Homo sapiens: one gene and its partner. The protein of the gene in region 1 purifies or fractionates together with the protein of each later gene. This does not show direct contact. Each region holds a gene or a part of one and is shown on either strand. Other genes may lie near its edges.

Region 1 (3,823 bases):
TTCCTTTACCTTCCACATCCTAATCTATACATAATAAAATAAACCTCTATGGAGTTTGAGATCCAAAAATCCTTTTGCAAACTAGAGTGCTATTTGATGGATTACTTTCTCAAGGCAGGAAGGAGGTACAGATTCAATCTTTATTCTGCAAAGTTTTTGTAAACAGAATAAAGGAGGCTTAGGTTTGATGTTATATAGGTTACTTGTGGCCAGGAGGAGGTTCAGGATTCTTTGCCTTTTTGAAATGAGAGAGACACTAGAGAGAAAAAAAAAAAATTACATACTGAAGGGCTATAGTTTGATGAAGTCGGAACTCATGAGTGGCAGCTTCCCTGGCTTGTGCCCAGGGTCTATTTTGAGACCTTGTCAAAGCTTGCCTGACAGAACCTACCACATAACCATAATCTGGCCTGGTCCTCTTGCAAGTCAGGAAGGCCTGCGGTTTAGGATCAGTGGCAAGCACAGAAGGGGGAGTTATAAAGGACATTTTGCCTTCAGAAGATTAAGGCTAGGTTTTGGGGTGAACAACTACTTAGCCCGTATATCCGAGGATCCAAGTTTTTAGTGCTACCTCCTCCTCCCCTGCTTCTTCCTCTTATTAAGGAAAGCTAAGGAATAAAGGTTTTGTTTGTTTGTGTGTTTGTTTTGAGACAGGGTCTCACTCTGATGCCCACGCTGGAGTCCAGTGGTATGAACACAGATCACTGCAGCCTCGACTTCCTGGGCTCGGGTGATTCTCCCACCTCAGCCTCCCAAGTAGCTGAGACTACATGCATACATCATCACACAGGGCCAATTTTTGTATTTTTTGTAGAAACGGGGTGTCCGCATGTTGCCCACGCTGGTCTCTAACTCCTGGGCTCACATCGTTCACCCACCTTGGCCTCCCAAATTGCTGGGATTACAAGCATGAGCCACTGCGCCCGTCCAGGAGGAAAGTTTTTAGAAAAAGGTGCACAAGAAAGAGCATAGGATTGTGCCAGCATTGATGTTATCTTCTGGTTATATGAGAGTGTTTGCCAAGAATCGGTCAAATGTTTTACATTAGGGAAAAAGCATTATTGTTACTGGCATAGGGAGGGCCCCAGTTAAAATAGCAGTCCAATTCAGAGACCTTCGTATTTGTCGTTAAGATCAAAAGGACTCTTGGAATAATGGACTATGCTACAGGATTATTTTAAGTTCAGATAGATAAATTAGCTTCTTCCCAAATTCTCATTCTGCTTTTCCTGTGGTACTATATAGTATCATGAAGTTATATCTTTAAACTCTTAGTTTGTACTATGTGGTGTCTTATGAAAACCTTGATTTGTTTATACTTAGTGAATGAAACACTTGGGTTTAAAGTTCTTTAACTGATGTCACTTCTTAGGCTAGAAAGCTGTTGAAAGAACTTAGTGTTCCACCCTTAGACCAAGGTTCATGTCACCATATTTAACAGCAGCTTTGTATTACGGTCAAGATTGTTTGAAGAATTCAGCATACAAACTTAATTTACAGATGCAAGCCTGCAGATGGACCTCCCCACCCCCACTTTTTTGCTTTAGATTAGGTTGTGACTGGAGGAAATTTAGTTTTCCTTTGCCTTCAGTTATTTGCAGCTGTTCACATTTATGATGATGAGAATGATGATGATGATAATGTATTTAGGATTCAGTGTGAGGAGAAAAAATAAACTAGTTTTTCTTTCTTCCTTATCAGTTTATTCCCATTATCTTATTTTCCCTTCTCTGTCTCTGCCTTCCTTTCCTCCTCGGGAAAAAAAAGAAAAAGAAAAGAAATAAAAAGCAGCAGTGAAAGAAAGTGGTAAAGAGCTGGGAAAAGCCTTGGAATACATACCAGGGTGCTTTCTCAGAGGTGGAATATAAACACCTTCATTAAAGAATCATGGATTATCTTTTTCCATTGTTTTCATTTTGAACCCTGTATATCTTAGTGTTCCTTCATTACCACATTTTAACTACTTTTGATATAACAGATATCTTTACTGCTTTAGGGAAGCAAATTTAATTTTTATGTTACTGTTCTGAGCATGTTGTTCCTTACATGCCCACTTTCCTAAGTAGAAATATATTAACAGCTAGAAGAAATCTTTTGGCTTTCTGTTTTGTAAGTTAGAGTATACCGTACTGTATGCAGAGGATTAGGATGTTAAAATATTTATTTCCCTGTTAAATGGCTTAAATCATGAACAAACTGAATATATAGCATTGCTTTTTTTAAAAAGTGAGTATCCCAGTTAAGTGACCTAAGGATTATAGGACTAAATGTAGAAAAAAATTCAGCTTTAGATTAGATGTTTTTTCCCTTGTCACAGATAATGCTGTATCTAGGTGAACAGTCAAGGAAATGAGAGGGCATTGTTCTTGTCTTGCCAGATTCATCCTTTGCAATCAAATAAAGTTTGTTTTGTTTTTAAAATTGTGGTACAATATAGATAACATAAAATTTACTCTGTTGACCTTTTTTAAAAATATTTTTATTATGGTAAAATACAGTCATTTGTTGCTTAATGACAGGAATATGTTCTGGGAAATGCATCATTAGGTAATTTTGTCAAGCAAACATCATAGAGTATACTTACACTAACCTGGACAGTATAGCCTACTACACACCTAGACTATATGGTATAGTCTGTGGTTCCTGGGCCATAAACTTGTGCAGCATGTCACTGTACTGAATACTATAACTGTAGACAATTATAACACAGTGGTAAATTTTCGTGTATCTAAACATAGAAAAGATACAGTTAAAATATGATATAAAAGATTAGAAAATAGGCCAGGCATGGTGGTGTGCACCTGTAATTCCAGGTACTCAGGCTGAGGTAGGAGGATCACTTGAGATCAGGAGTTCTAGGCTGTAGTGTGCTATGAGCACATCTATGAATAGGCACTGCGTTCCAGCCTGGGCAACATAGTGAGGCCCCATCTCTTAAAAGGGCACACGTGTATAGGACAGCTCCATTATAATCTTATGGGACCACTGTAATATGTGTAATCCATTGTTGACTGGAACATCCTTATGCAGCACATGACTGTGTACATAACTTAAAATTTATCATTTAAACCATTTTTAAGTGTACAATTCGGTGGTATAAAGTACATTTACATTATTGTGTAACTATCACCTCTATCCATCTCCCTAACTTTTTCATCATCCTAAACAAGCTCTGCCCATTAAACAATATCACCTCATGCCCATAGCCCTTGGTAACCATTGTTCTACTTTTTGACTCTATGAATTTGTGTACTCCAGGTACCTCGTATAAATGGAATTATGTAATATTTGTCTTTGTGTCTGGCTCATTTCTCTTAGCATGATGTCTTCAAGATTCATCCATGTCATAGCATGTATCAGAATTTCATTTGTTTTAAGGCTGAAAAATATTCCTTCGTATGTTTATACCATATTGTTTAATCATCTTTTGATAGATGGGTTGTTTCCATCTTTCTGCTTTTGGGAATAGTGCCACCATGAATATGAGTATGCAAATGTCTGTTTGAGTGCCACATTCAATTCTTTTGTGTATGTACCCAGAAGTGGAATTGCTAGTAATTTGATAATTACCAAATTTCATTTGGTAATTCTATGCTTAATATTTTGAGAAACCACCATACTATTTTCCACAGTGGCTATACCATTTTACATTACCACCAGCAATGCACAAGGGTTCCAGTTTCTCCACATCCTTGCCAACATTTACTATTTTCTGTTTTCTTATTGATTGATTTTTATTTATGTTGAGCCAGGGTCTCACTCTGTCACCAAGACTGGAATGCAATGGCCCGACCACAGCTCACTGTAGCCTTGACCTCCCGGG
Region 2 (3,823 bases), on another chromosome or scaffold:
GACCTTGTGATCCGCCTTCCTTGGCCTCCCTAAGTGCTTGGATTACAGGTATGAGCCACCGCACCGGGCCAAGAGCTACTTTATTTATCAGTCACTATAGGCATAGTGCCTGTGTTTGCAAGCTTTCTAAGAGCCTTTGAAAATATTTGAGACCCAGAAAAAAATGATTGGCCCCAAGATATGAAAAGAAAGTAGCAAAATTAATCAAAATTAATCAATGTTTAAGCATCTGTAAAATGCAACCTGGCATCAACTCTAACCGAACTGTTAAATAATAATGTTTAAACCTCAAGAACCAAATGAGTAACTTATTTATAACAAAATTCAAAATCTATACAAGTTATAAAAATTCTTTCAAAAATTTTATAGCAGAAAGCACATACAATGTGCTTTGCTTTAATATCTTTGATATGATATGGAATGAAACTCTCAAAAGTAAAAGTGAAAGCCAGGCAGCGTGGCATATCCGTAGTCCCAGACACTTGGGAGGCTGGGGCAGGAGGATTGCTTAAGCCCAGGAGTTCAGGGCTATAGCACCCTATGATTGCACCTATCAATAGCCACTGCTCTCTACCCTAGGCAACATAGTGAGACCCTTTTTTTCTTTTTTAAGACAGAATCTCGCTCTGCCGCCCAGGCTGGAGTGCAGTGGCTTGATCTCGGCTCACTGCAACCTCTGTCTCCTGGGTTCAAGCGATTCTCCTGTCTCAGCCTCCCAAGTAGCTGGTACTACAGGTGTACACCACCATGCCCAGATAATTTTTGTATTTTAGGTAGAGACAGTGTTTCGCCATGTTGGCCAGTCTGGCCTCGAACTCCTGACATTAAGTGATCTGCCTGCCTTGGCCTCCTAAAGTGCTGGGATTATAGGTGTGAGCCACCATGCCTGGCCAACCCCTTTTTTTTTTTTTTTAGAGATGGAGCCTGGGTATGTTGCCCAGGCTGGTCTTGAACTCCTGACCACAAGCAATTCTCCTACCTGGGCCTCCCAAAGTGTTGCAATTACAGGCATCAGCCACTGCACCTGGCAGGACCCCGTTTCTTAAAAAAGTAACAAAGTAAAAGTGCTTCAGTTCAACAAAGGTTTTAAAGTGACCTTGTCTAAGCCCCTGGATTCTGATGCCATCCAACGACGGGAAGGAGCTTCAGTCATGGCTTAAGTAACATTTTAGGCATTTAAAGGAAATTGAGCATGTGCTATTTATCGCACAATTGAGTTTATGGATTGAGGTGCAGTCAACAAATATTTACTGAGTGACTAATGTGTGTTATGCACTGTGTTCAGCACTGCAAAAAATAGGACAGGTGTAGAAGGCTCCTCTGCCTTCGTGGAGCTCATCTTCTAGTGAGGGAGACAGACATTAAACAAACAGACACTACAGATTAAGTATTAGAAAGGAAACAGGGTCATGAGTTAGCAAGTGAAGGGCAAAAACCAGGGAAGAGGGGAAGAAGTGACTTTAGGTAAATTTAATTTCAAAGCCCAATCCCTATATACCTTAAGATTATGAAATAGGGTTTATCTCCCCTGTCCCCATAACTGTATAACACACTAACCAGTTATTATTATAATTATTTTTGGAGACAGGGTCTCACTCTGTCACTCAGACTGGAGTGCAGTGGCATGATCATGGCTCACTGCAGCGTCGACCTCTAGGGCTTAAGAGATCCTCCTACTTCAGCCTCCTGAGTAGTCAAGACTACCAGTGCGTGCCACCACACCCAGTTAATTTTTTGATTTGATGTAGAGACAGGGTTCCAATATGTTGCCCAGGCTGTTTTGGAACTCCTGGGCTCAAGCAACCCTCCCGCTCGGTCTCCCAAAGTCCTGGGATTACAAGCATGAACCATCCCACCCAGCCTGTAACTACCTTTTTATCATTTCCTGCTCTGGATAATTTTGGGAAATAAATGGATTAAATTTTTGCCCTCTCTTAGCTGTTTCTAAAAATTATTCTCATGAAGGTATGGGTCATATCACCCCTATGGAGAAACTTTGCTCAGGGAGCCTTTTTCTAGTAAGCCCTGGTTCTGTACTAGCCAGCTCTGGGACACACCAAAGGCCCGTCAACCTTACTGGGGAGCCCCTCTATTTGCAAGATATCAAAACAAAGGGGAAGTAAAGGTGGGACAATAAGAAAAAGAAATCAGAATTCAGTCACAGGTTGGAATATTTTTACCAAGCCAGATAAAATGAAGCCACATGTGACAGCTCTTACTCTATTTTTTTATTTTTATTTATTTATTTTTTGAGACAGAGTTTCACTCTTGTTGCCCAGGCTGGAGCGCAGTGGTGCGATCTCGGCTCACTGCAACCTCTGCCTTCTGGTTTCAAGCAATTCTCCTGCCTCAGCCTCCCAGGTAGCTGGGATTACAGGTGGCTACCATCATGCCCGGCTAATTTTTTTTGTATTTTTAGTAGAGACGGGTTTCACCATATTGGTCAGGCTGGTCTCAAACCGCTGACCTCCTGATCCACCCGCCTCGGCCTCCCAAAATGCTGGGATTACAGGCGTGAGCCGCTGCACCTGGCTGACAGCTCTTATTCTATACACAAACCGAAGTAAACTACCTTACCCATTGGCTTGCTTTGGATTCCAAATTTCTGTTGAAAGTGACTTTGGTCGGGGCATGGTGGTTCATGCCTGTAACCCCAGCACTTTGGGAAGCTGAGGTGGCAGATTGCTTGAGCCCAGGAATTCAAGACCAGCCTGATCCACATGGCAAGACCTCCTCTCTACAAAAACAATTTTTTTGATTAGCTGGTTCTGATGGCACGCACCTGTCCCAGCTATTCAGGAGGCTGAAGTGGAAAGATCGCTTGAGCCTGGGGGGATGAGGCTGCAGTGAACTATGATTACGCTACTGCACTCCAGCCTGGGTGGCAGAGCGAGACCCTGTCTCCAAAAAAATAAAAGAAAAAGAAAGAAAAAAGAGACTTTGGCAAGGGTAATTACATAACTGCCCCTCTCCCCTTGTCCTGTTTTATGGTCTCATTTGTAACCAGACCTGATATTTCCCTCCTATATTCATCATGGTTAAATAATCCCAACACATGGGCTAAATCTTGTGCTCAAGAAAAGATCTGTGATGTCGTTTGTAGCTTTGCATGGCCTCATTTAGGTACTTCCTCACTGAGCCGTGAAGCCAGGTGAGGGCTCATGAAAATCTTGGCATTTAGCCCAAGCCCCAGCAGCAGAGCATTTATGCCACCAGCCGTGGGAAGTAGCTAAGCAAGAAGAAATAAGAAAAACAAGTTGGTTTGGAAGAGCCCCACCCAAAACAAGTTTCTGCCCACCTGAAAGCCAATTTGCTAAGCTAGCATCCTGATTGCCACATAAGCTGTACTTTTTTTTAATGTGACACAGAGCAATTATGATTTCTTCTTAACCAGGAGGGATATAATTCCCTGGCCTGCAAGTGTGGTGTTCATAGTCAGGATGGCAGGGCATGAGGCCCACCCTTCCATGCTTTTGTGGTCTTGGGGGAGGTAAATAACCACAAAGCTTTTTCACTGCTTCTATCTCATGGGTATTCAGGATATTTGTGGGTTTGGTTTTTAAAACAAGTAGCCCCTGAGCAATTGTTAGTGCTCCGCAGGACGAATTACTGATCATTCCAGGAATCACAGTGATGGGCATTCAACCACCAGTAAGTCTTCTTCCCCACTAGCCACTCTTTTCATATCCCATAACTCTTCCCCTCAAGGGGAAGCAAATAAGATGTCCTATGGTTACATCACCACAACACTTCTGGCAGGGGTTCAGCTGGCTTCCTGGTGACTGACAAGACTGGCAATAAGTGAGTACAGGGAGGCAAATGA

Evidence for each region.
Region 2: the proteins of LRRFIP2 (region 1) and TMIGD1 purify together in Homo sapiens (co-immunoprecipitation; one study listed by IntAct). This does not show direct contact.

The regions. Positions count from the first base shown.
Region 1 is NC_000003.12:37,167,898-37,171,720, reverse strand, and holds part of LRRFIP2 (leucine-rich repeat flightless-interacting protein 2), read left to right. Parts: intron 1-3,823. UniProt on the Homo sapiens protein: May function as activator of the canonical Wnt signaling pathway, in association with DVL3, upstream of CTNNB1/beta-catenin.
Region 2 is NC_000017.11:30,320,266-30,324,088, forward strand, and holds part of TMIGD1 (transmembrane and immunoglobulin domain-containing protein 1 isoform 1 precursor), read right to left. Parts: intron 1-3,823. UniProt on the Homo sapiens protein: May control cell-cell adhesion, cell migration and proliferation, cell morphology, and protects renal epithelial cells from oxidative cell injury to promote cell survival.